Regions from separate parts of the Homo sapiens genome. Here regions 2, 3 and 4 are each reported to be linked to region 1. Evidence: microRNA targets listed by miRTarBase, many of them from high-throughput screens and not tested one by one. Region 1 holds a microRNA gene; each other region holds the end of a gene's coding sequence.
Evidence for each region. The annotated mature microRNA hsa-miR-30d-5p reads UGUAAACAUCCCCGACUGGAAG and lies in region 1 at 4,943-4,964, opposite strand. An mRNA with a match to its seed (bases 2 to 7 or 8) in the 3' UTR can be bound and repressed. Matches are read on the target gene's strand: a 7mer-m8 pairs with bases 2 to 8, a 7mer-A1 pairs with bases 2 to 7 and ends in A, and an 8mer does both.

Region 1 (7,163 bases):
TTTTACAGATGAGAAAACCACTGAGGTATGGAAACAGTGCCTTTCCCTCCTCCAAATCCCGTAGCAAATTCACTTGTGGAGTCCAGATGGCAACAAATGTCTGATGTCAAAGCCCATGCTTGTTAAAGCACACTGCAATACTACAAACCCGACCCCAACTACCAAACAAGGGCATTCTTTTGTCCCAATACCCAGAGCCTTATGTCATGTTAGTGCTATAGCAAAATTGAAAAGATACAATAAAAATTTAAATTGAGTAACAAATTTAAAGGAATTTTAATAAATTTAGAGTAATTTTTCCTCTATAAGCATACTGTTTTTCTGTTTTAACTACTCCTACTGCAACCATGCTTTCTTCTGCTTTTCTCTGCAAACATATTCAAGTAGATCCCTGCCAGCTAGACAATTAACACACTTTTTCTCTGGGAGAACAAAATGGTCTCACATTTCCAACAAACCTTTAATTACATTAATTACATTAAAAATTCAAGCCTCTGTATACTATTCTTGCCAAATCTTTTATCAATGTTAATTGGTTGACATTCCAAGTCAGCTGAAGTAAACATCCACCTCCCAGCCAATCCATGTATTACAGCTGAGTGTAGGATGTTTACATGAACTGAAACTTGGTTTAAAGCAGGACTTAAACTCTTTACTAAGTTTGTACGGTTCTTTACGTAAGACTCTGTTGAAAAAAAGAACAGGCACAGCATTCACATAAATGAGGCAAGACTCAATCGGAAAGATATCCTGAGAGAAAGTGTAGAATCCAAGGAAAAGGCAGAAGTGAGTTGGGTGTTTGTTTTTTTGGAAGTGGGGGCGTGTCCAGGGCAGTGGGGGGCACTACAGGCACGCTACTATGCCCGGCTAATTTTTCTTATTAATAAAATTTTTTTTAGAGACAAGGTCTCACTATATTGCCCAGGCTAGTCACAAACAAGTGATAACGTTTTTCACCAAAGGAATTTACAACAATAAATGCCGACATCCTGTAGTGTTCCATATCTAAATGTAGCTGATTATCCAGCCTTCCTATATCCTTCCCTTCAAAACAATCAAACTTGCATTTATAAGAACTTACTTGATGACCAGTATGATGCATCAACCAATCTTCATTAAGAAGATTCCTCCTTTAGGTAAAAGACAGTTAATGAAACACTGTGAGGAGCTTAGTCATCTCTCCTCCCCCTCAACCCTCTCCTCATCTTCTCCCCCACATTCAGAATTCAGATAATTTCATCTCAGGCACATCTTTCCCACACTCTGATCTCTTTCCACCTTCTACTGTTCCCAGTGTCATTAAGGTGTCTCAAAGAAATGTCTCCCCCTCTTTTTGCATTCTTTCTGATTAAAAATATATTCCCACAAATATCTCCACTAACTATTATCAGTGGTCCTACCAACACACTTGCATCAAAGAAGAGGAAATCTTCAAATTTGGAAGTAAAACTACATATAATAACCACTGCCAGCAAACTTTAAAAATCTTTGGCATTTCACAGGTAACCCAGGACTTTCAGGAACCTCGCCAGTCTCTACCTAGTCTCTTGTCCCTTCGGGCTGTTTTCCAAAAGCATTGGTTCTCAAGATTAAATACACATATACCTCCCCGCCACCCCACTCTACAACCATACTGCTTTTCTGTTTTAACTACTTCTATTACAACCGTATTTTTTTCTTCTGCTTTTCTCTGAAAACACATTCAAATAGGCCCCTCCCAGCTAGACAATTAATATACTTTTTCTCTGGGAGAAAAAATGGTCTCACATTTTCAACAAACCTTTTTATAATCAAACTTCTGGATTAATACATGTTTTTAAGTTAAGGATTTTTCTGTTTTACTTCATGTATTAATTGGGCATAATATCTAGCAGGAAAAGAATGTAAGATGAGCTCTGTGATTCTGAAAGCATGGGCCTAGAGGAGCAGCATCAGCAGTACTTGGGAACTGTGGGGGGAAAAGCACATTCTTATGTTCCACCCCAGACCTACTGAATCAGAAACTTTTTTTGCAGGGCCCAGCAATCTGTGTTTTAATCAATAAGCCCTCCAAGTAATTCTGATGCAAGCTGATATTGAACAGCAATGGACTGTTTCACCAAACCTGTTGGAAAGCTAAAGCAAAGACAGCAGTGAATGTCAAATTACTAGGAAGTTTGTAATATGGTACAGATAAGAAAAAGGCAATGCCAAAACATGTAGCATGGGTCCACCCACAATTAACCAGGCTAGGCAAAGTGTGGCAGAGACTATCTGAAACAGCCTTATTTTAAAAAGTAACTAAGCCCAAACTGATATTCAAACTAAAAAAAAGAAACAAAAATATTACCTGAGCACACACAGCAAATAATGCACATTGATCCAATGAATAAAGCTGTAACAAGAGTAGAAGGGAATCACAGAACATGCTCGACGCAATACCACATGCATGCTGGGGTTTATAGGTTCACAGTCCATTTCTGGGTAACCTCAAGCCCATGACTCATGTAGAAGGAACTGAGGTGTGGAGATCAATGAGAACAAGTCCAACAGTGTATTTATATGACTATTTCTAACCAAGAATATTTGTACAAAAGCATCTAATTTGAAATAAATTGGAAGACCCAATTTTGTAATTAGTTATTTGCTTTAAAAAGTTGTCCCTAAGTCATTTCAGACCATATACTCAGGATAAAATACTGTCATTTACAGAATGGTGTTCAGTAACTAAAAATGTTTTACTTTAAATATCAATTGGTAGAACAAATCTTAAATAATAAGTAATTTCTGTGCTTTCTAAGTCCTATCAATGAATACCACAATTTTTTTCTTCAACACTAAGTTAAGGGCTAGGGAAACAAGTTATTACAGGCTTATTGACAAATACTGATGATCTAACATTTCAAGCCATTTGCTATAAATAATCAATTGCTAACCTTATAGGCCAATGGGAAGTTAGTGGTTCTTCAATATAAAAACATAAAGAAGCCATCTGAAAACTACTAAAAAAGGCTGTACCTATGTATTATACTATACTGAAGCAAGGGCATCCAGAATTAAAACTGACATCGTCTTTGATTCACCTCATTAGAGGCAGAATAATATAGAACAAATGTTACATAACACAGATTGCCCCATTAATCTGTAGCATCTAGGGATAACTGGCCTAGCTGGGCAGAGTATAACAGCTTTATTATAAAGAATGCCTACCCCCTCATTTAGCTTAGGTTTGGCCTTATCATTTTGAAAAACCTTTCAAATTTCACTGCATAAATTATGCATCCATCTTACTAAATTTTAAAGCAGTATATCAAAATTTTTCATAAGAAATAAACAGTGTCACCTGGTCAAACAAAATAATCCTATTACCACAGAACACATTACATTCTACCTTTGGCAGGGAAGACTTCTGAGCTCAGCAATAACTATCCTTTCACTGCTATTTGAGTCTAAGGTTTCCAATGTGCTAAAACAGAGGGCCACAGAATATGCAATAAATCTGCTTTATTTAGAGTTCATAGGAAGGGATGCTTGATGCATGCTAATCATCCAGCCTGAAAATTGTATTTACAAGTTGGAAAGCCACCTGAGTCTGAAGCAACTGACCCCCATCCCCAAATAAGTCTTATAAACTACTACTCTAACAAAAGAGCATTTAAAAAATAAAAGCTGTAGCACAAATACATCTGGGGTAACTACATTATGACCAAAACTGTCATTTGCTCATCTGGATAAAAGATAAGAGGCAACAGTAGACACTGCTGCAATAAGATAATATAAAATCATTACTAAAGTACTATACATGCAAGGTGCTTTACTTGCTGTTTATAACAGGAAAAAATAGAATTATCAAGATTTAATGTCTCTGACCTCAGAAAGCTTATAATCTAATCAAAGAAAATAAGCATGTAAATACATTAGATTGGCAAGACCTTTATCTTTTGGTGGTTTAATCATGTATGGAACCTAACATAGTATGTTTAGCAGTTTAATAAAAATAAATGATTTAAAAAAACCAATGCTTTATTGAAAAGAAAAATGCCAATAAAATAGAAATGTTTTCCAGTGTCTGAAAGACTAACAGAAATAAAATAACAATTTTTTAAAACTCAGAAAATAGTTGCTATAAAATTATACATTATCAATTAGTCCACACTGAGTGTCATCTGTGAGAAAAGCCCTGGATTATTCAGATCTGTGGGGAAACACAAAAAATAGATACAATACAGCTGCTTTCAGGGCAGCTATATTTTAAGGAGGAAGCAATAAATCTGAAAGCAACAATCTGAAAATACTTAGGAAAAATATTAATATAAAAAGACATGCATACCCATTAGCAAATGTAAACAGGCTTAGTGGCTTGACGTCTTGCAGTTTTTCTTAGAGGAGAGTTCTGATTAGGAGCTGTAATATCACTCAGGGTGAGGGGAACAGGAAGTGGGGGGCTAAGAGGACGGAGAAAAATGTTGCACACACATCTCTTTTAAGTATAGGGAAAGCTGAAATTTCTAGATTGCATACTGCTGGGTGGTAGTGATGAAATTATTCTCCAGAACTTCCACAGAATTTACAATGGAGAAAATCAGTCTCCTGAATTGTTGGGATGTTAAACTCCAGCCTACTTGGAAAGGTTATAAAGACTAAAATTTCATTGACAGGGCAGAAACAGGAATAGGCGGTGACACTTTTTATTTAACTAAATTCTCTAAGGCCCAGCAGCAGCACGCTAAGTCTGGGAAGCTCGAGACGGCATATCCTGTTATTAGGAGAGCACCCTACATTCAACTATCATAATACGTGCACTGTCAGTGCAGTAAAAGAATGCAGCTAAAGATTTCTGAGGTTTTCCCACACATTTTATAGCCTCCTCAACTCCACTCCGGGACAGAATTATATCAAGAGGATGTCTGTGAATAGCCGGTAGCAGCAAACATCTGACTGAAAGCTTAGCTGTGTCTTACAGCTTCCAGTCGGGGATGTTTACAACAACAGACTTTCTGAACAAGAAATTTAAGAGGAGGAACAGACATAAATGTTGCCAGTCATCATCTTCAGCTAATAATTTATATAATTTCTAGTGCTGAACAATAGCTGTGACATCTTGAAACAAAAATGATAAAGTTAATGCTAATAATTAAAGAGAAAGTGGTTCACCAAGTGCAATTTCTCCTAAATAAATCTAATTTTAAAAGAAAATACGCATTACAAATTTATCTTGGTAAGTATGAAACATTAAAGATATTACCCTGATATCCTACATGAGGATACATTTTTCCAACATATGCAAAAATAAGTTTTCTTCTCCCTAGAGTTTCAAAATAGTAAACACATTAGAATGATAACCCTAATGATCAGTGACCATACATTTCATGGATGCCTGCTGCCCTGACGTTATTGTTAAAAATGACTCCTTTTATTTAAAAAAGCGTTAATTTAGTTGACAATGAATAGAGTGGGTTTTCCTGGCAGAGGATCTAAACTGAGTAAGAATCTAACACTTTCTTCCCCTGTCTCCAGCTGATTTAGGTTAGGGATGTACAGTTCAAGGAAATGAGCAAAACAAAGAGGATAATAAAAGAAACTCATGATCTTAAATTTGTTTATAAGGCAATATACTAAAACCATTTTGTTTCCACACCACTTTTCTGAAAGAAAGGAAAAAGACTAAGTGAAATATAAGTAAATCTGCATTCCATCAAAAACCAAGATTTGCTTTAATTTAAAATATGTAAAATTGCCAGGCACAGTGGCTCATGTCTATAATCACAGCACTTTGGGAGGCCGAGGCAGGTGGATGGGTAGATCGCTTGAGTCCCGGAGTTCAAGACCAGCCTTGGGCTAAGTGGCAAAACCCTACCTCTAAAAACATACAACATATTAGCTGGGTGTGGTGGTGCATGCGGTCCCAGCTATTCGGGAGGCTGAGGTAAGAGGATCCCTGAGCTTGGGAGGTGGAGGCTGCAGTGAGCTGAGCTCATGCCACTGCACTGCAGCCTGGGCGACAGAGTGAGACCCTGTCTCAAAAAAAATAAAAATAAAAATAAAATAAAATATGTAAAGTAACCTTCTTTTGGGGAAAAAAACTATGAAAACAATTAAAGTCCACAATTAAGTCACAGTGATTTATGAAATGATTTAAGAAATGAACATACATACATACATGAGCATGCATATGTACACACACACTCTACAGAATAACTACTGAAGAAAACCAATATACAAATTCTGAGAGACTATTAATTTCCTAATACCAAATTTTTTGAGAAACTATGAGAAAAGGATTTCAGTTGCTGATATTTACCCTGTGATAATATTTAACGGTTGCTCTCTGAAATACTTTTTGTTTAATGTTGTAAATAACTCTACCCATTATATAAATAATGCTGGAAATAATGAGGAAAGTACATGTGGTCTCTATGGATACAAGATGACCTTCACTGTTTTTGAAGAAAAATACTTTTTTAAAAAGTCCAGTGGCTATTTACAACAACAACTATTCAAACTGTACTACAACTGAAACTTTCCAGATTTAAATCAGGAAAAAAATAGCTATTTCATGCCTAGGTAGGCACATGATACTTGACTAATGAGGATGCTGCACATTAAGTTGCAATAAACCAGTTACCACAAGTCTCCAAATCTCCCCTTTAATTTACCTTCCTGTCCTCAGTTTAATTTTTTTAAAGACTGATCAAAAGACATTTTTATCAGAGCCACTGTATTTAACTCACACAAACAATACATAGAATATTTTCTTCAGAGTTATGAAGGAATTTTGTCAAATGCTATGACTTTGTATAATATATTCTTGAGGAAACATGAAAATTAAATGTACAGAAGTTGAATATTAAGTATATGTGATAAGAAACCCTATTATAAAATACCTTCTATCATTATAAAGTATCTTCTAGACACAATCTTTGTAATAATACACAGTAAGAAGGTAAAGTCTAATGAGGGGATAGCTGAAGCTAAAGGTTTACCATTTTTGGCATGCTTTATGATTTCCATCTTTGTCAAAAACATTACATATTTGCGGGTCAATTTTCTATCAGCATTAGCATTTTACTTTTAACACATTTTTATAAAAATGGGCAAAACACACATGCATACATACAATCTGCTGTACAGACAAAAAAATGGATATTACTGAGCTACTGACTGGAACAGTGCTACTGGTTCAG
Region 2 (7,157 bases), not on the chromosome of region 1:
CCAGGAGGCAGAGGTTGCAGTGAGCCAAGATCGTGCTACTGCACTCCAGCCTGGGCAACAGAGCGAGATTCCACCTCAAAAGAAAAAAAAAAAAGCCTGGGCGCGGTGGCTCATGCCTGTAATTCCAGCACTTTGGGAGGCTGAGGCGGGTCGGTCACCTGAGGTCATGAGTTTGAGACCAGCATGGCCAATGTGGTGAAACCTTGTCTCTACTAAAAATAAAAAAAAAATTAGCCGGGTGTGGTGGCGGGTGCCTGTAATCCCAGCTACTCGGGAGGCTGAGGCAGGAGAATCACTTGAACCTGGGAGGCGGAGGTTGCAGTGAGCTGAGATCGTGCCATTGCACTCCAGCCTGGGCAACAAAACCGAAACTCCATCTCAAAAAAAAAAAAGAAAGTAGTACCTAGAGCAGCCAGAGAAGCAGGCAGAAAACCAGGGGTGAGATGCCACTGCCAACACCAGGCCTGGAGCCAGGGCAGTAACAATGATAGTAGCTAACAGTTCTTGGCACTTTAAACAGTGTGCCAGGACCCGTGCCTGTGTCTCATACACCTGCTCTCACTGTTCTCACCTTATGAGGTAGGAAGAGGTGGTTATTAAACCCGTTTTCCAAAGGAGGAAACTGAGGCTCAGAGAAGAGTAGCCGCCATGCCCCCAGGTTCCCCAGCAAATGACTGGCAGGGCCAACCTCTGACTCTAAGACCTGGGAAATCCAGAGGCCAAGCCGACAACCCCCAGCTGGCCCTTGGGGTGGGGTAGAATGACCTCGGGTGGAGCTGATGCTGTCCCCTTGCCTGCCTGTCCACAGCGCCTGGCGCATGAGTGCCTGTCACAGAGTTGTGACAGTGCCAAGCACTCTCCAACGTTGGTGCCCACAGCCACCAAGCCCGACGCAGTGCAGCCTGACAGCCTCCCCTACCCACAGTACCTGGCGGTCATCAAAGCCCAGATTTCCTGTGCCAAGGACATTCACACCGCCCTGCTGGACTGTGCCAACAAGGTCACGGGCAAGACACCCGCACCACCTGCTGGCCCTGGGGGCACTCTGTGAAGTGGGGGACAGGGAGTGGGGCAGGCAGTGGTTGGTGGGTGGTGTGCAAAGGGAATGAAGAGCGTCCTGGGCCTAAACACAGCAGCCTCCTCTCTTCCTGCCTGAGCACCGCAGCGGGAGCCAGCAGGGGGCAGCAGAGGCCAACAGGGAGCTCGCAGGCCGGGCCCCTGCGTCCCTGCCCCTTCTTCCTGCTCCCCCTCCTAGCCTAGGGTAGACTTTGAACTGTGTGTGTTGATGACTTCTCTGTTCCACAGGCCCTCCCCCATTCTTGCCTGGGTGTGGAGCCCTGGCTGTCCCCTCTCCCTCAGTCCTTCCTGACTGTCTCCAGCTGGGAGGTGGTCTCTGTGTGCCACTCCTCTGTGTCTCTATTACAGTTGTGTCTCTCTCATCCTGTCTCTTTTTCCCTTGTTTCTCTGTTCCTGTTAATGTGTTTCTCCCCATGGTCCTATTTCTCTCACTCTGACCTCTCTCTCTTAGTCCCCTTTAGCTGTCTTCTATCCCCAGCTCCTAACTGGGACTCTGTGTCTATGCAGGGGGCCAGCACCCCTGGGTTATCTGGGGCTAAGGGAAGGGACTTCATTTCCAGGGGCCACAGCCAAGCCCAGAGTCCCCCAGCGGCTCGCATGTCAGCCCAGACCCCAGGGTCCTTGGCCTAGGAGAGGAGCAGTGGAGGGGCCCAGGCTCTGAGCTCCACAGGTCTGAGCAGGGAGCAACTCAGGCCCCCACCCAAGCCTGCGTCAGCGGAACTTGAGTGAGGGGCGTTGTGCAATTTGTGGCAAGGCTGGCCCAGCTGGATGCCTGGGTCCCAGTATTTTTAGCCCCAAAGGAGAAGTGAAAAGGCCCCAGCCGGGGTGAATCATCAGTCCTGGGGAAGAACCCAGGCGCCTGAGCCCCAGCTCCGGGAAGCAGGCACTGGGGAGGGGGCTTCAAGGAGGGAGTGCCCCCTCAGACTCCCTGCTTCCCTGGAAGCTTCAGGAAGCTCAGCCTCAGCCTTCAGGCCTGAGCAAGTGCAGGGCGGAGCTACCAGCCCAGGCTCAGATGTTGGGGTGTGAAAGCCTCAAGTGACTCAGCCTGGTTGGAGAACTGCCCCACCCAGTATCTTCTGTGCCATGGTTCCCACATTCGCACTCCATGGCCTCCTGTCCTGGACCCCACGTCTGCAAGGAAACCCTAGGACCATGGATACCTCTGTGATTCACGCTGAGCCCAAGTCCCCACACTGGAAAACTGGGAAATGGCCAGCTGTGTGTCCCAGGAAATTCCTCCCCTTATTCTTCCTTGAAGTGCCCGAGCATGTAGGGCAAGAAGGAAGGCTGAAGCGCTGTCCCTAGGAGGAATTTCTCCTTCAGGGGAGCCTCAGTTTTGCCCATTTATCTAATTGAATCAGTTTTTTACCCAATCCCCCGATTTTGTAGGATAATCTCCCTTATCTAAAGTCAACTGATTATGGACTTTAATCACATCTACAAAACACTTCCATGGCGACAGCTAGATGAGTGTTTGAATAACTGGGACTGTAGCCCGTCCAAGTTGACACATAAAACTGACCATCGGGCCGGGGGCGGTGGCTCACGCCTGTAATCCCAACACTTTGGGAGCCCGAGGCGGGCGGATCACAAGGTCAGGAGTTCGAGACCAGCCTGGCCAACACGGTGAAACCCCGACTCTACTAAAAATACAAAAAATTAGCCGGGTGTGGTGGCACACACCTGTAGTCCCAGCTACTCGGGAGGCTGAGGCAGGAGAATCGTTTGAACCTGGGAGGCAGAGGTTGCAGTGAGCCAAGATCACACTATTGCACTCCAGCCTGGGCGACAGGGCAAGACTCTGTCTCAAAAAAAATAAAAAACTGACCATCTAGTCCTTGTCATCTGGGCACCCTCACACATCTCCTTAACCACACTTAATCTCCAAATAAGTACGATAACATAGTCATAGTCCCACCCAACATGATGCAGTTATCTTGCATACAACTGAAGACAACTAACCCTTTCCCCAACAGAGCCCACCAGCAGTGGTGGAGATGTCGGTCCATGAGCGCACACACAAGACTGAGGGACTGTCGGCCCTCCCAGGTGGTGTCAACACAACATCACACACAGGTGGGGGGGCCTGATAGCCCAGCACCCATGATACAGGGCCTACCAATGCTTAAAACCACACCCAGGGAGCCCACAGAGGCACTCAGTGGGTGGTGGGGTGATGGATACACATCTATCAGGCACAGGGCGGAGGTGGGCACCACTGAGTTGCACTCAGCAAACACATTGGGTATCTTGTGCCCAAGGCCTGTATTTGTGGAGCTGATGTTCTAGTGAGAGACAGTAAATGTGACAAAAGTAAAATATATCAGATGGTGAGAAAACAGAAAAATGAGATCAGAAGTGGAGATGTTGGGGCCAGGCACAGTGGCCCAGGCCTGTAATCCCATCACTTTGGGAGGTGCAGGCAGGCAGATGGCTTGAGCCCAGGAATTCAAGACCAGTCCGAGCAACATAGCAAAAGCCCTTATCTGCAAAAAATTCAAAAATTAGCCAGGTGTGGTGGTGCGTGCCCAGGTTCCCAGGTACTCGGAGGCTGAGAGGTGGGAGGATGCCTTGAGCTTGAGAGGTTGAAGCTGCAGTGAGCTGTGATCGCACCACTGCACTCCAGCTTGGTTCATGGAGACCCTGTTTTTTTAAAAAAAGAAGTGGAGGTGTTTACACCAGCAAAATACTCATTTTTTAAGTGTAATTAAGTTGAAGATCAAAAAATGGAAATGTATAATTAAATCATACTTAGCAAATCTAACACATGAAATGTAACATCTGCATATGGAGAATCGTGTTACTTTATTGAAAAACATTAAAAGTTTGAGAACTTAAGTTGGATTGTGGTTTCGTGAGCATTCATTATGGTTTATATATGTTCCATGTATTTATTATTAAATAGATGACAAGGGTTTTCTTATTCTTGTTTATATATGTTTGAGACCAGTCTCACTCTGTCGCCCAGGCTGGAGTGCAGTGACGCCATCTCGGCTCACTGCAACCTCCGCCTCCTGGGTTCACGTGATTCTGCTGCCTCAGCCTCCCAACTAGCTGGGATTACAGGCGTGCATCACCACACCTGGCTAATTTTTGTATTTTTAGTAGAGACGGGGTTTCACCATGTTGGCCAGGCTGGTCTTGAGCTTCTGACCTCAAGTGATCTGCCCGCCTCGGTCTCCCAAAGTGCTGGGATTACAGGCACAGGCACGAGCCACTGCAGTGGGCCTTTTAATTTTTGTTTTAATCCTTGACAGAGGTCAAGGAAGGCCTCACTGAGAAGGCGATATTAGAGCAGCCCCGAAGGAGAGGGAATGAGCTTGGGGACATCCACACATCCAGGCAAGAGTGCTCCAGACAGAGGGAACTGCAAGTGCCAGGGACCTGGGACAGGAATGTGCTGGGATTTATGGAACACATAAAAAGGAGGCTTGGGCACAATGAGGGAGCAGGGATAGGAGAGGAAATCCAGACAGGTCACAGAGGGCCTTGGTGAGGACTTGGGTTTGCTAGGTAACTAAACCCAGAGGGAGACTACACAGTCTGGTGCACACTGCATGCTCCAGGGACGGGGTGTACGTGAGGTGCACAGCCACCACAAAACAGACCGTGGGGACTCCAGCACACAGCATGTCTGCCCCACTGCAGAGCTAACCCACCATCCTACAATCATGGTGCCCCCAGGGACCCCATCCCATTGACAGTCCCACAAACATACTTTCAGGGAGCAACCCAGCCACATGAATACACAAACAACCCTCTAACCACCACTTTACCAGATAAGCTATCTCTCACCCCATCGCAGACTTTGCCCATCACAGGCTGACTCAGCCCTGTCCTTAGCCCAGCACTATCAGAAGCAGCCTCATCGGCGCTGCCCCAGCTTCTCAGGTACTCATGTCTGCACGTCTGCTCTGCCCACAGAGGCCGACACAAGAACAGTGACATGGAGGGGGGAGCTCGCCAGCTACTCTCCCCATCACGCAGGCTGTAGACGTCAGAAACCAAAGTTCATCGGTTTCTCTGCCTTGTGACTCGGGCCACAGGAACTGCATTCAGACGCCGGCCTGCTGTGGTCTGCACATGCAGTCTCAGACACCCACGACAAAGGACGTGGACATATGTGAACACTTCACACACCCAGGGACTACACACACTGAGCCACAAAGGCCTTGCACACGGCCACAGCTGCAGAGTCACAGATGCTGACACAGCTTCAAATGTGTGTGCCGGGTGTGGTGGCACGTGCCTTTAGTCCCAACTACCTGGGAGGCTGAAGTGGAAGGATCGATTCAGCCTGGGAGGTCGAGGCTGCACTCCAGCCTGGGCAACAGAGCGAGACCCTGTCTCAAAGCAACACACACACACAAAGTTGTGTGTGCACACAGCCTCAGTCACAGGGGAGGGCAGTCATTCCCTCACCCAGGCACCTGCGCGGAGTTACACACACTTAGTCACTGCAGATCCCACAGTGGCTCAGAGCTACGCACAGATATGCAGGTGGGGATGAAAATCTCATGTTCTTAAGAATGCCGCCTCAGAGACAAATTGCAGTACAGTTACAACAGAGCATCCACCCCACACCCAGAGATGGCCAAAGTACACACGGTACAGTCGATCACACAGGCGGTTTCACACATTGATTCACACAGCCAAGTCATGCGGGATTGTATGCACACAGCCTTCTCACAGGAAACTGGGCACACTCGTGTCCCTCACGTTCCCCCACTGCATACCCAGGCACACAGGCTCTCGCAGCCCCAGATGCCAAGGCGCACACCTTTGCACCCGCAAGCACACATACTGTTCACACAACCGGGTACACATGACGGCTAGCCCAGGCCCGCCGCCCACGCAGTCGCAGGCCAGGGTACACACGGCCAGCGCCGCCCTTGGCCACGCCCGCTCAGGCCCAGGCAATCGCGCCAGGCGCACACACGGCGCGAGCACACGTGCCGCGGGTACACGATCCCCAGCTCGCCCGCGCACTCGGCCAGCTCTCACACCCCCGCGTTTCCCGTCCCCGCTTGTTTTTCTGGAAACTCTGCTCTCCCCTCCCCTCCCCCTAGGCCGGAAGTGTTGGCTGTATTTTTAGCCTCTCTGGTTTCCGCCCCTTTCCTTCTTTCCCCGCCCGCCCAGGACTGGCCCCAGCGCCCCGCGGGGGGACCCCGGCCATCCCCTTCCCCACCGTCATTCCAGAGGGGATTCCCGGCCGCCGCTGGGGCCGCGGATTTTCCCGCTGGCTACGTAGGGAGCAGGGAGGAGTCCTGCCATGAACTTCCTTCTGGCCTGGGACGCCCGAGATCTGAGGGGAGGGCTGAGGGCCTGGTCTCCTGGATCTGATCGAGGACAGGCTGGGGGTCTCCCGGGTCTGAGGGAGGAGGAGTTAGGGGCCTGAACCGCTGGATCTGAGGGAGGAGGAGATGGGGGCCTGGACCCCTGGGTCTGAGGGAGGAGGGGCTGGGGTCTCGGGGGACCTGAGGATCTGAGGGAGGAGGGGCTGGAGGCCTGGACCCCTGGGTCTGAGGGAGGGGGGGTTGGGAGTCTCCCGGGTCTGAAGGAGGAGGAGTTAGGGGCCTGGACCCCTGGATCTGAGGGAGGAGGAGCTGGGGGCCTGGACCCCTGGTTCCGAGGGAGGAGGGGCTGGGGGCCTGGACCCCTGGATCCGAGGGAGGGGGGTGCTGGGGGCCTGGAGTCCTGGGTCTGAGGGAGGAGGGGCTGGGGACCCAGGGCCCTGGGTTACTGCGAGGGAGGAGGGACTGAGGCCTTGGCTCCTGGGTCCCCCAGGTCTGTGGGTTTGGGGAGGTGGAGGACCAGTCCTTCTGCGAGCAAAGCATCCCCCTCCTTTGAGAGTGGCCCTATCCCAAAAGTCCTGACTCTTGGGGCCGATGACTCAGCAGATGGGAGAGAGGAGGGGGACAGCCTGACTCAGGGATGGGAAATGCTCCCGGTCTCCAGGGAGTAGAAACTGGAATCCCTCCTCCAGGATTGATCGCAGCCCGAGCTGAGCCGGGCTCCGCGAACCCAAGGATGCCCCCAACCCCCCTTTCCCCGCCTCAATCCTTTAAGCTGCGTAAGGA
Region 3 (7,000 bases), not on the chromosome of region 1:
GACAGCTCAGAATCTTGTGACGCAGTAGTCAGGCATCTTCACACCAACTTGAATATTGAAGTGCAGTTGTGTGGAACTTGGATCATCTTAGTTGATTTTGTTTAAATTATGATTCCACATATGACAAAAATCCAGATCCACTAATTAAAATGAGGGTTTATGTCTATGAATAATCTCCTGTGGGTTTAATCTCATAACATTCTAGTCTAAACAGTTGGCTTCACTTCATGATGTCTGCTCAAATCCTTTTTCCTTTAAAGGATGTTTATTTAATAAGAAAAAAATGTAAAATGATAGATAATAAAAGCCTTACTAGGTTCTTAAAAGATGAACTATCCATATTTCAGTAAATGAATAATTAGTCCTTCCTCTTTGGGCACCTTGGAACAGATTCATTCAGATAGTGGGTGGAAATGTACATGTATGGTAAGCATTGCTGGCCTAGTCACTGAAAAATGTAAACTCTTATTTTTGATTGCAGGTGGAAGTTAAGCCATATGTCTTGGATGATCAGCTGTGTGATGAATGTCAGGGGGCCCGTTGTGGGGGGAAATTTGCTCCATTTTTCTGTGCTAATGTTACCTGTCTGCAGTATTACTGTGAATATTGCTGGGCTGCTATCCATTCTCGTGCTGGCAGGGAATTCCACAAGCCCCTGGTGAAGGAAGGCGGTGACCGCCCTCGGCATATTTCATTCCGCTGGAACTAAAGGATAACTGCAGTGCTCATTTTCAGGCCTCAGAATAAGTGCACTCTTCTGTTCATTCTGACCCCTTCCTCAACCTCTTCACGCTGGCATGTCCTTTTGTAGCAGTCTGTAACTTAACTATAGTATAATGAAAAGAATGACCTATAATATAGGTGTTTTGTAGATTCTTGTGTCACTGCAAACAATATGAACTCCTTTTTCGTATTGCCATCGGGTTGCATGGAAGTTTTATTCTCTTGTTTTGCTGGAAACCAAGAGGATCCAAACTTCCTGCAACATTTTCTTAGAGGAGAGAGAGAAATATTAAAAGAGAAATGAAACAATAGAGTATTTTGGGTTTTTAATTAAATTATTGTTAATAATATAACATATAAGAATACTTTTATTAAAATAACCATGCAACAATAACACTATCGGTCTATCTGACAGTTTTTCCCCCAGGGAAGTGCTTTTGCCTTTTCCTTTCTTTTTTTTTTTTTTTTCATCTTTTTTGTCTCTCTCTTTTTTCCATCCCTTTTTAATTTTTTTAACAGCAATGGAGGAAGTTAACAATTTTTAATGGAAAGAGCATGTTAGAGCAAACAAATGCATAAGCAAGACTGAGCAGCATTATAATTAATTTTCAGGGTTTTGAGGCTGAACATAATTTCATTATCCCTCAAAAAGTTACCACCACATCAGAAAAAATAAAAAAAAAATAGTAAAGTAGGCAGAGCTAGGTTTATTTTCTCTTAAACAATTTTTAAAATTCAGAATGTAAAAATTGGGTAAATTTACTACTGAGGGGAGTGCACTTATTTATTTAACTTACTTATCTGGTCAAAGCCCCAGGAAACCTACCAAAGCTAGAATTAATGACAACTGGTGGGAAACCTAGCATTTCCTCTCCTGAAGAATAAATGTATAAATGTTATTTTTGATGTTTATATATAAACTCTATATCCTAATTTACTAATACTCATCAGATGTCAGCCTTTGCTCTCCATTTTGACGTTAAAAAACAACAACAGATCTAGAGATACCTCAAGGATATCATTTTTGATTTTGTGTTACAGTACACTTGTAGCCAAAACTGGAAGACAAAACCAATATATAATTTGGCTGCTGATTGGCTTACTTTTAGATTTAAAGTTACTTTGGGTATCCTGTAATTTAGTTGTAACATAGAAAATGAAAAAACAGTTAAAAAAAGTGAAGTAGTTGCAAAGTGTTTTGCACTGTTGAACTAAGTAACTGTGTAAATCTGTGCAAAGGTACGTATGTTTATCTTACTCTTCCTATAAACTAAAATAACATTACAGTTTCCGAATTTAGCATGGGACATAGTCAGTGTTTGAAGTGCCAACTTCATCAAGTAATGCATGCTTTATTATAAATAAAATTCTAGCTTTGAAAGGCGTTATGTGTTGAACAGTATGCTTCAGGGGTAAATTTAAAATAGTCTCTTGAAGCCCTAGTCATGGAAGTAACTTTTATTTTAATTGACATTCTCTTATTAAATGCCCTATCCATCATTAAAAGGTTTATTATCAGTGGGCAAAACATGAAATAATATGATCGAATGGCAATCTTGCTAGTTGCGCTACCTAACAGTACCATCTTGGATCCTTCAAAACCAAAGACTTGCCCCAGCACTGCTGTGGAACCACCTGGCTTATGACCCCTATGGATGATCTTTAGGAAAAGCAGCCCTTTACTTTTAATACAGGCTTTAATGAACTATACCTGTTAAGTTCCAAAGGTCAAAATGGAGGCATTTGCTGTCTAATATTCAAACATAGAAAGGGAGCTGCTTTTAAAGAATTCCCTGCAAATACTGAAAGCAGTCATGCGAATGGAGGGTGCTCTTGTGTAGCTGGTCAGGGACTTTTTTTTCTTTTCTCCTGAACTACATGATTCTAATTGGAATGTTCATTTGCCTCTTTTTACTCTTTTAAATGCTTGTAGGTGGCTTGGGGTGTGCTATCGTGCTGTTCCTACTCAGTAAACAGGTGTGATGAGTTAACAAGAAATAACACTGTTTGAGAACTAGCTTTGAATAATAATTTTTCCCTTTGTACATGACCTGCTGAATTTCGGTACAGTGTTTTTGTAGCTAACTTATTTTGTCATGCACATAATGTATATTTGTTATGCACTACTTTTGTATATCTTGTTTTTCCAACAGTGAACATTTTTAGGCACACTTTTCACTGACGGGATATCTCTTTATGCAATACCTCAATTTTTCATATTGCAAAGAGTAGCTTTTTGTACTTTTATTACTGAGAGATCTTCATATACTTCATTTTTTAATATAAATAATTTTAATAAATTTTATTTTCTTATATTCTGCTTTTTATACATTTCAGTGCTCTGCATACATTTTAAATTATGAATGTCGTGCACTGGCAATGCTATTTTAGAGTCTGCAGAGAAGAGAAAGCATGTTGCTTAAACATCCTTCCCCAGCACCAGCTATTGGTGTACCTATAATTTAAGAAATAGTCTATGTAAAGTCACAAATTAATGAAAAAAATTCGCATGAAAATGACAGATAACACTGTAGTTCCTAAAAAAAAAATTAAATGCATAAGCATAAGGTAGAAATTAAAATAACAAAATTGTCTACAGCTTCTTACTAAGTTTTTAAAATTATTCATAAAATGCAGACATTTTTGGTGAATGTTTAGCCATTTTTAATATTAATAAATTGATGTTAAGTGTTTGATTCAGAGATGTCTGCTCTTTTAAATTATATATAAGGAAAAAAAATAGCCTGCCTTGGGACAGGTGTGTAATGTTAGTGTGCATGACTAATGTAAGAAATTGTTATTCTACTAATATTTACTTGTGATTGTGTGACAAGTGTGTTTACAGATTATTGGTTACACTTCAATTTACAGGGCATAAACAATGATTATCTATTACTCTGAACTTTATGATTACATGTTCTTCAGATTACATGGGATTGTAGTTGGGAGTTACCATGTAACTCAAACATAATTAACATGTAATTAGTTTACAGATTGTAGGGCATCACTTCAATTCACCAAGCATGTAGTTCTAGCGCACTAGCATGGCGCCAGCCATGTACTTACAATGTAGTTACAGAGTAATTACATGGTGATTTTTGCAATGTAAAATAAAGTGTTTCTGATTATTTTCTATGTAAAGGAACCCTCTCCTTTCCCCTTCTGGTCCCTGCGCTTTGGTATAATATATATACTTCTCCATACACAGACCTCTGCAGAATGCAAAATAAAACTTGCAGTGAATGAATTTAGCATTTTATGAGAGTGCTGTTGGAAAGACTTGATAATTCACCCCTTTTGTTTTGAAGAGTTGAATCTTCTGTTAAAAGGTGATTTAAAACTTGAATGTGATGAATTGTGGCAAGTTAACTTCAAGTTATGTGCAATACTTATTTCAAACTTTTGAAAGATCTTTGCAGTGTAATTCTTTGTTTTTAATTGCAGACATTTAAAAATGTCATTTTCTACTGTTAAGAGTAATCCTCTTTCTTGCTGGTGTTTCTAAAGAAAAGAATCAGAAATCAATCTTTCTACTAATGTAAATTTGAGATTATTTTTAAAAATGGAATAAAAGAGGTTTTGGTCATTTGCTTTATTTTATTATTTTAAAGCTACTGTGATTGATAGCATTGTAAGAATCGGGACAATATTGTATTCAACTGTTTTATTTTTTATATTTTTAAAATTTAAAGTATAATTAGTTTTTATAATTTTCATCAGATTTTTGTTATATTTTTTGGAAGTGAAACTTTTAGCAAGTGGGTGTCTAGTTTTTACTAATCCCTAATTTTTTTTCCAGTGTATTGCTCATATTATCAGAAGGAAAAGTTATTTAAGTATGTCAGTTAATTGTACTACTTGGCTGAATTTCCATATAGTTTTTACTGTGTATGGGGAGGTTGTAGTATTTATTATAGCATTTTAAATAAGGGTAATTCATTTTTTATTAAAGTCATTTTCACGTTAAGTTCCTATTTTTGTATGTTCTACTCTTAAGTTATATAACACAGTTCCTTTTTTAAAAGAGTTCATTTGTTGAAGTGCTAGTGAAAAATTAATGTTATTAAATAGTTTGCAAATGACTATTTATACCAGTATGCATATAATTTTTAAATATTTGTAATGTGAGATGTTGAATGAATAAAACTTTTAACTCAGATTTCTTTTAATATACTTATTTCTTTTTAACACAAGTAGATGATGCTTTCTTGACTGGGAATGTAACATTTTAAAATATTAGGAATATACTGTTCAGCTAATGCAGCACAAACCAATAGGAAAAAATCTTCAGTCATATAAGTACTGTGGCCAGTGTGCATTCTTATGTAAGCCTATAAGCGTCGGTGGGTGGTTGTGTCTTTGGCCTGTACTGTTAGTTCACCTGCTGCCTGCCCTGCAGAGTTCTTTTTATTTGTAGCCTTCAATATGTATACAGGGAGTAAGCCCAGGATCTAAGCATTCAGTTATCAGTTGAAGGCCAAATGCCCAACAAAAGTGAAAAACCCAATGTTTAGTTAATAATGAAAGTCCGTATCTGGGAGGTTCAGTTTTGAGTCTTTGTCAATGAATAGTCTTGATTTGTGGCCACACTACCAAAGGGCTTGAAAACAAGTCTCTTTTGACTTCCAATTCCCAGTTCCTCCATAGACCTTAATGTCATAGGATACGGTGTGTGGGATTATAATCTCTATGGCATGTCAATTGAAAATATTATCTTTGATTTGATCCATTAATCATGTGGACTACCAAGTGCTGTAATGTGTTAGTATTTATATTTTAAACTGCATTCTCAAACTTTTAACATAAGGATTTATTATAACAAAATATAACACTGAGAATATCCTGTTTTGTCAGATTTAATATCTGTTCTTTCTTGAGTATAGTATTCTCAAGACTAGAAGAGGTTCTTGTCCTGAGAGAAATGGACTATGAGATCTTTTGCGTCTAAGTTGTCTTTCCCAACAGGCAGCTCTTCTAACTATAGAGATTACTGAGGGTAAGGGCAGGCTGGACAGCTTCCCCTTTCTCTCATCTGGCAATTCCCAAACCTTACGTTGAGCATTCAATGAAGGGCCTTGAGGAAACCCCAGGGATGGGACACTGGAGATGTGGGTGGCATTTGGTTATCAAGTCTATAATATTCCTAGGCATTCTGGGATGGTTTCACTATTTTAAGAAAAGAAAAAAAAGATAGCCCAAGCATATTTAGTTTATTTTAGGAAATGTTTATTTCAGGTAAGTGAGATATCAATGATATGTGATATAACAACTCTATCTTGAAATTACATAGGTGCATTGCTTTGGGTGTTTTAAATCACAGAATGGTGTGTCTGGAAAGGGTGTAAGAGGCTTCCTGGGCTATATTTCTTCATTCACTGATTGCCTAAACCTACCCAACGAGGAAAATTCTTTTTATTTTTATCTTTTGTTTTTACTGTCTAACCAGATGAATAAACAGTGGAAATTCTCTACCACACTCTTAACAATCAAGTCATTTCATAACCCCTTTTGGTAATGGGTGTTTGTGTCCACAGCTAGATCAGAAAGTAAGTACTTTTTCTAGGGATTTTTTTTTTTTTTTAAGTTTGGGAAATAGTTTGATCAAAAGTCATGGGGAAAGTAATCTCTGATTTTAAAAATTGAAGAATACTGAAGGTGTCAGTGAGTTAGAAATTTTTAAGGAGTAATTATTTTCTGAAATGTGTAATAACCGAATAATAAACAAGACAAAACTCTAATATTTCAGACTGTGATCTTCAGAGGACTAGGATAGTCCTTTCCACAAGAAAAAGACAAAAAAAAATAAAGTTTTACCATTAAATACACTTAGAAAATGGGTCACCTTGTTTCTTGCAAAGTCAAAATAATGCACATTTGCACATTAGCTTATTAAGACTTCAAGAAATTCTACAATGAAGAAATCTTTTTTATTTTATTTTATTTTATTTTATTTTATTTATTTATTTTTTTGAGATGGAGTTTTGCTCTTGTTGCCCAGGCTGGAGTGAGTGCAATGGTGTGCTCTCAGCTCACTGCAACCCCTGCCTCCCGTGTTCAAGCCATTCTCCTACCTCAGCCTCCAAAGTAGCTGGGATTACAGGCATGCACCACCATGCCCAACTAATTTTGTATTTTTAGTAGAGATGGGGTTTCTCCATGTTGGTCAGGCTGGTCTCGAACTCCTGACCTCAGGTGATCCGCCCGCCTTGGCCTCCCAAAGTGCTGGGATTACAGGCGTGAGCCACCGTGCCCAGCCAGAAACCTATTTACTTTGTTG
Region 4 (7,163 bases), not on the chromosome of region 1:
AGTGGGTGGAAGAGGCGGGTAGAGCCAGATCTTGCAGGGCCTGAGAGCAGAGGGAAATGGCTGGCAGCTCAAGGGCAGGGATTTGTTTTTTGGAAAGATGAATCTGGGTCCTGGCTGAGAACTGTCTGGAGAGGGCACGAGCAGATCAGGGAGACTGAAATGGTGTTACCCATGGGGATGGAGACCATGGGGCACATGAGGATGTTCAGAAGCTGGGCTCAGCAGGGCTCAACTGGGTGTGGGAACAAGATTGCCAACTGTTTACAACTCTGATAGTGGAGCCATTGATCAACATGGGTATGTAGGAGGAGAAGCAGTTTGTGGGATTGTTTGAGAGAATGGGATATGATTTTATTTGAAGTCCCAAGCCTGGGGTATGATGAATGTGGGCTTTCGAGTGAGAGTTGGGTTCAGTCCTAGTTCTACTACCTACTAGGGATGTGATCTTAGGTAGGTCACTTCTCTCTCTGGGGAACTGATTGATTACATCATCAATGCAACGGGGATGGTAATGCCTCCCTCATGGGGTTTTTGGGAAGATACAAATAGATAATATAAGTGCCTGGCATGATGTCTGGCATGTAGTAAATGCTCGATACATGTGGATTTCTTTCCCTTGTTGAGGGGTGGGGACCACACGGGAGTAGGAAGCAGTTGGGGAGGGGTCAGCAGCCTGTCCCTGCCCCTGCCCTCAGCTGAGCTCGGGCTCACGTGAGAGCCCTCTGCCCAATGGGGCTGCGTCTCCAGGTACAGGGCCCTGCCAGTCCCATGCTGGCTACTTGCAGCACCCCTCTCTCACCCCTAGGGAAGCGCTGCGAAGGCAGCTGATGGCTGCAGAACAGGAGGATGACGTGGAGGGTGTGTGCAAGCCTCTGTCCTGCGGCTGGGAGATCACAGACACCCTGTGCGTGGGCCCTGTCTTCACCCCAGCGAGCATCATGTGAGTGGGCCTCGTTCCCCCCGGAGAATCCCAGCGGGGCCTCAGAGATGCATCTGGGAGAGGTGGGGAAGATGGCAGGCAAGGGTACCCTTGGCCAGGACTCTGGTGCCCACCCTGCCACCCCCGCGCTCCACCTGCAGTGTTTCTGCCCTGTAAATAGGACCAGTCTTACACTCGCTGTAGTTCAAGTATGCAACATAAATCCTGTTCCTTCCAGCTGTGTCTGCCTCCTCTGCAGTGCAAGGGGCCTGGTCAGCCAGGTGTGGGGGTGTTCTTGGGGTCTCCTTTGGTCTCCTTCCCACCTTTGTAAATATAATGCAAATAAATAAATATTTAGGTTTTTAAAAACTGCAGCGGAATCTGGCAGTTTGATTCACAAAGCAGCCTGGGCTAGGCCTGGGGCAGGATTTCCCCATCACTCACTGATGAGCCCACACCCTCTGCTTTAGTCCTGAGCCCTGGCTGCAGCGTGTGCCTCCCCCACTAGTACTCACCTTATCTGACTCATCTCTCTCCTCCTCATGGGCCTCCAGGCCTGGTGCCATAAGGAAGGGGCTGCTGTCAGGGACTGAGATGGGCAGTTACGTAGCTCATAACTGGTGAATGGCCTTTGGGTCAGCCCAACACCCAGCTTAAGGCCTGGCCCAGAGTAGGGGCAATGGAGTATTTAACACAGCTGTGGAAATTCATACTGAAGATACAGAGCCAAGAAATGGGTGTGTGGGAGGTTTTGAGTGGACCCTGCACCCTTGCTCTCCCTGCAGGTTGGCAAGGCAGTCAGAGTAAAGCAGACACCTGGTGGTCGCTTTTGCTTCTTTGGGCAGTGCCTGTTAGAACAGGGCTGGCCACGGAGTATTGCTGTGTCCAGTGCCGACAGCCCTGGCATCCCCTGAGACTGGCAGTGCTTATCAGGACAAAGGCTCCTTCACACTGCCGGGTTCCCAAATTATGCCCCGGGGTGTGTGAGCTGTTGAGCAAAGGAGTTCAGATTTTAGAGTCCCCCTCAGTGGCTGCAGGGGACTCTAAATATTTTTCTGCTGCAATTAAAAGATTTGAGATGTAATTCATATGCAATCATCAAATTCACCCTTTTAAATGCAGAAGCCTGGGTGCAGTGGCTCACACCTGTAATCCCAGCACTTTGGGAGGCTGAGGCAGGTGATCACCTGAGGTCAGGAGTTCGAGACCAGCCTGGCCAACATGGCAAAACCCCGTCTCTACTAAAAATACAAAAATTAGCCAGGTGTGGTGGTATGTGCCTGTAATTCCAGCTACTCAGGAGGCTGAGGCAGGAGAATCACTTGAACAGGGAGGTGGAGGTCGCAGTGAGCCGAGGTTGCAGTGAGCCGAGATTGCACCACTGCACTCCAGCCTGGGCGACTGAGCGAGACCCTGCCTCAAATAAAGAAATAAATAAATAAAGTGGAGAAGTTAGTGGTTTCTGGTGTATTCAGAGTTGTGTAACCATCACCCTAGAAAGAAATCCCATACCCATTAGCAGTCACTCTCCATTTTTCCCATTCCCCAGTCCCTGATGACACAAATCTACCTTCCATCTCTATGGATTTGCTTATTCTGGACATTGTATTGTGATGGATTTTCTATCTTCACTTGAGCTTCTCTCTAGGTAAGCCTGACCATCCTGCTTCAGTATCTCAGCCAGTCCTGGTGGGAACTGTACGTGGCTTTGAGGTCATCTCATGAGGCAATGTGGCATGGGTTTGGAGTGAACGAGGTGCTTTCTCAAAGCCAGGGGTGTCTCCCTTTTCCAGGTGGGATCTAGTTTTCGGTATCTTGACAATAAATAGGCTGAAAGCTTGGGACATCAAAAGACTCAGGGCAATCAGAAAGGGTTACTCTACTACCCCGTGATCCATCAAAGCCACGATTTACAGGTATTACCATGCCAGTAATTGTCTATCAGACTCTGAGACTTCTTCCATCTCAGATCTCCAAGCACTCATACTTCTTTTGCGGAGAGGGACATAGGTTTTCTGCTGGAACCAGGCATCTGCTGTGAAAAGCGCAGGAATCCTGGGAAGATCTCATGGCTGGCTACAGTGAGACCCAGGTGTAGCTGATTCCCTCTTCTGAGCAAGTCCACTGAGGGGGCATTCTGTGGCTTTTGAAATGACAGTGGCTGTCATGGAGTTTGGATGGATTTCTCACTGGAGCCTTTCTAGTGTTTCATGTTCCATTTGCAGCAAGGATGTGAAATTTACTTTTCCAAGAAAGATACACGCAGAACTTGATGTGGCTTACTTGAGGATAATAGTTAATAGTCATTTTTTCCCAGTTATTTGTTTTTGTTTCTTATTTCAATCTTTTTCTAAAGAGAAGAAAAAAGCCTGAAATGTGGAGAATGGTAAGGGGCTTCAGGCTTGTGCAGGCGAATCTAAGCAGGGGTCTCCTGGACCCCTGGCTGCATGGGCACTGCCTCCTCCAAGCTCCCTGCTGAGCGACCCACTGGCAGTGGCTCCTCATGCCTCCTGGCTGCCTTGGAAGTCAGATGTTCCTGTTGGCCTATCACAGACCCATCCTTCCCTGGGGCATCACCTGAGGAACATCCTCTTCCCAATGCCTCCCTACAACCCACCTGTGCCTCCTGAAGCCCCTCCTGCGCGCACACTCACTCTCTCTCATTCTCTCCTTCAAGGAGTTAACAGATCTGAGCTTCCATCTTCTCATACTCAGGACTGGCCCCTTCTTCCCCTTTCCCCTCCACAGTCCATCCTCCACTCAGCAGCCAGATGCCGTACCTCCTGGGATTCCGTTTCACCAAGAATGAAATTTAAAGTCCTTGGCCAGCTGGCTCTCTGACTCCCACACTTCCCTCTCACGCACTGGGTCCTGGCCACACTGGCCTCCCCTCTGTTCTTCAAACACTCCACTGCTGGGCATGCATTTACTGTCCCCTCTCTAGAATGATCTTCCTGGGTTATCTGTGGGCCTCACTCACTTCATTCAGGTTCTGTGCAAATGTTTTCTTTAGGTGAAGCCTTCTGGATCACCCTTTAGAAAATAGCATGTCCTAGTCTCTCTCTTTTCTCTTAACTAGTTTTCTTTTTCTTCATAGTACCTACCACCACTCAACATACTCTATAACATAACTCCATAATGTGTTCCATAACACAAGGGCAACTGTCAGCCCTTCTAGAATGTGAGCTCTAGGCTCTTGGAATAAACCTGATTTATTTTTTCACTGCTGTGTCCTTATTACCTAGAACGGAGTAGGTGTTCAAAAAGTATATGCTGGATGGGCAAATGAATAAACATGTCTGAATCTGTCTGAATAAACATGCTCTTAACCTGTCTGAATCTGTTTACTCATTTGTACAATGTGGCTGATAACTTTATTTCCCTCAGAGGGTTATTGTGAAGATTAAATAAGAAAATGGGTATAAGGCCAGCTGTGGTGGCTCATGCCTGTAATCCTAGCACTTCGGGAGGCCAAGGCTGGTGGATCACGAGGTCAGGAGTTTGAGACCACCCTGGCCAACATGGTGAAACTCCATCTCTACTAAAGATACAAAAAATTGGCAAGGAGCGGTGGCTTACGCCTATAATTCTAGTACTTTGGGAGGCCAAGGCAGGCGGATCACGAGGTCAGGAGTTTGAGACCAGCCTGGCCAAAACAGTGAAACCCCGTCTCTACTAAAAATACAAAAAATTAGCTGGGTGTGGTGGCGGCACCTGTAATCCTGGCTACTTGGGAGGCTGAGGCAGGAGAATCACTTGAACTGGAAGGTGGAGGTTGTAGTGAGCTGAGATCACACCACTACACTCCAGCCCGGATGACAGTGTGAGACTCCATCTCAAAAAAAAAAGATACAAAAAATTAGCCAGGCATGGTGGCGTGCACCTCTAATCCCAGCTACTTGTGAGGCTGAGACAGGAGAATCACTTGAACCTGGGAGGCGGAGGTTGCATTGAGCCGAGATCCTGCCATTGCACTCCAGCCTAGGCGACAGGGCAAGACTCCATCTCAAAAAAATAAACAATAAAAAATAAAAAAAGAAAATGGGTATAAAGTACTTAGTCCAGGACTTAGCACTCCTCTGAGTTCTCAGGGAGCTCACAGTGCAGCATGGTCACAGAGGACCTTGAATTACAAAGCCAGGAGTTTGAACTTAATTCTGTAGGCAGTAGGGAGCCCGCTATGCTTCTGGAGCAGAAGAAGCACGTCAGGATCTTTGGGAAGATTAATTGAAAGTGTATTCAAAATAAAAAAAAGAAAAAAAAGTATACTCAAAAGGGGTGGAGGGAGGAGACCTTCAGGGCTGGTAGTGGCATGTACTTCCTTCACCTCTGCCCACAGTCTGAAAGGCAGACCCAGTCAGGAAACTTTTTTTTTTATTATACTTTAAGTTCTAGGGTACATGTGCACAACGTGCAGGTTTGTTACATATGTATACATGTGCCATGTTGGTGTGCTGCACCCATTAACTCATCATTTACATTAGGTATATCTTCTAATGCTATCCCTCCCCCGTCCCCCAACCCCACGACAGGCCTCGGTGTGTGGTGTTCCCCAACCTGTGTCCAAGTGCTCTCATTGTTCAATTCCCACCTATGAGTGAGAACATGCAGTATTTGGTTTTTTGTTCTTGTGATAGTTTGCTCAGAATGATGGTTTCCAGTTTCATCCATGTCCCTACAAAGGACAGGAACTCATCCTTTTTTATGGCTGCATAGTATTCCATGGTGTATATGTGCCACATTTTCTTAATCCAGTCTATCATTGATGGACATTTGGGTTGGTTCCAAGTCTTTGCTATTGTGAACAGTGCCACAATAAACATACGTGTGCATGCATCTTTATAGCAGCATGATTTATAATCCTTTGGGTATATACCCAGTAATGGGATCCAACCAGGAAACTTTGAGGAGGTCAGAGAGACGCAAGTTGTCAACTCTGTTCACCCCAGCTCAGAGGGAGATGGTGGCTCTCTGGGTGGGAGTCATCTCTCACCTAGGAAACCCACCTGCCCAAGCCATCTCATTCCAGCTGTAAAGGGAACAAAGGGGAGGCAAGAGGACAGGGGTTCCACTCATCCCTTTGCTCCATTTTAAACCCTCTTCCTGGCACCTTTAGGTAAACAGCTAAGCCTGTGTAAATTCAACCAGTAAAATGATCTGATTGTCAGTCCTCTGCTGAAAGCCCTTCAGTTGATTTCCGCTGCGATGCCAAAAAAAGCTAAATTGCCTGAGACCCCTGCCCACCTCTCCCACCTCATCTCATGCCACTCTTTTCTCACATTTCAGTTTCTCACATTTACTGACTTCTTTCTTGCCTCCAAGTCTTCGCCTTTGCTGTTCCCTTAGCTACTCCAGCATTGGCTCATTCTCATCTTAAAGGCCTCGGCTTGAATGTTGCCATCTCAAGAAGGCCTTTTCCAAACATCCTGTTCAAAGTAGCCCCCACCAACTTATGTGGTCATATTTTACAGGGATGAGGCTCTAAAGACCATATTTAAGGCAAGAATCATATGGTCAAAATTATCATTGAAAATCCCTTAGAAAGCTATCATATTGGAATCTTGTTCATCACACGCCCTTTCCTTTCCTTTCCTTTCCTTTCCTGTAACATGCCAGACACACTTACAACCCCAAATCTCTGCATAGATCTCTCTCCCTCATCCCTTCAGGTCTTTGCTCAAATGTAATGTTCTCAGTGAGAACTTCCTGACTACCCACTTCAGGCTGGGAGTGACGGCTCATTCTTGTAATCCCAGCACTTTGGGAGGCTGAGGCAGGAGGATCACTTGAGCCCAGGAATTTGAGGCCAGCCTGGGCAACATAGTGAGATGCCATCTCTAAATCAAACAAACAAAAAAACTGTAACATTTCCATTCCTGCCCCAGCATTCTATAATCCCCTTCAGAGCCTTACTTTTTCCTCCATAGATCACTGTCTAACATATTATACATTTCACTTAGAATTAAGTTCTGAGGGCAAAGATTTGTTTATTTTGTTCACTGCTGGGTCCACAGTGCCTAGAATACTGTCCTTCATGTAGATGTTCAAGAAATTACTGAATGAAGGAATGAATCTTTCAGGCCTCAGCTTGGGTGTCTCTCTCCTTTCTCTTACTTTCTATTCCTTCATTAGGGGTTCCATCTCCGGGCTTTCATGCATCCTGTATTTGTCCCTATTAAAGAACTACTGATCACAATGTACTGTAGTTTTCCTCTCTAAATACTTGTCTTCCTGCGTATCTAAT

Region 2: miRTarBase lists MED29 as a target of hsa-miR-30d-5p. Seed matches in the 3' UTR shown: 8mer at 3,748-3,755.
Region 3: the mRNA of CPEB4 is a reported target of hsa-miR-30d-5p. Seed matches in the 3' UTR shown: 8mer at 3,560-3,567 and 7mer-A1 at 3,709-3,715.
Region 4: miRTarBase lists AZIN2 as a target of hsa-miR-30d-5p. The part of its 3' UTR that is shown has no 7-base or 8-base seed match.

Annotation. Positions count from the first base shown.
Region 1 is chr8:134,799,977-134,807,139 of GRCh38, forward strand. It overlaps MIR30D (microRNA 30d), which reads right to left and starts at 4,969; the gene lies at 4,900-4,969. MIR30B (microRNA 30b) reads right to left here and starts at 631; the gene lies at 544-631. It also overlaps a transcript of ZFAT not described here.
Region 2 is chr19:39,396,649-39,403,805 of GRCh38, forward strand. MED29 (mediator complex subunit 29) reads left to right here. Exons shown (of 4, transcript NM_017592.4): 4 at 809-3,993. The coding sequence ends at 1,051. Among named protein-coding and RNA genes, the nearest start is that of ZFP36, 6.6 kb to the right of the region's middle. RefSeq lists enhancers at 1,673-1,722, 5,175-5,394, 6,655-7,157.
Region 3 is chr5:173,955,429-173,962,428 of GRCh38, forward strand. CPEB4 (cytoplasmic polyadenylation element binding protein 4) reads left to right here. Exons shown (of 10, transcript NM_030627.4): 10 at 482-6,552. The coding sequence ends at 709. Among named protein-coding and RNA genes, the nearest start is that of C5orf47, 30 kb to the right of the region's middle.
Region 4 is chr1:33,119,239-33,126,401 of GRCh38, forward strand. AZIN2 (antizyme inhibitor 2) reads left to right here. Exons shown (of 12, transcript NM_052998.4): 12 at 806-4,254. The coding sequence ends at 944. Among named protein-coding and RNA genes, the nearest start is that of AZIN2, 42 kb to the left of the region's middle.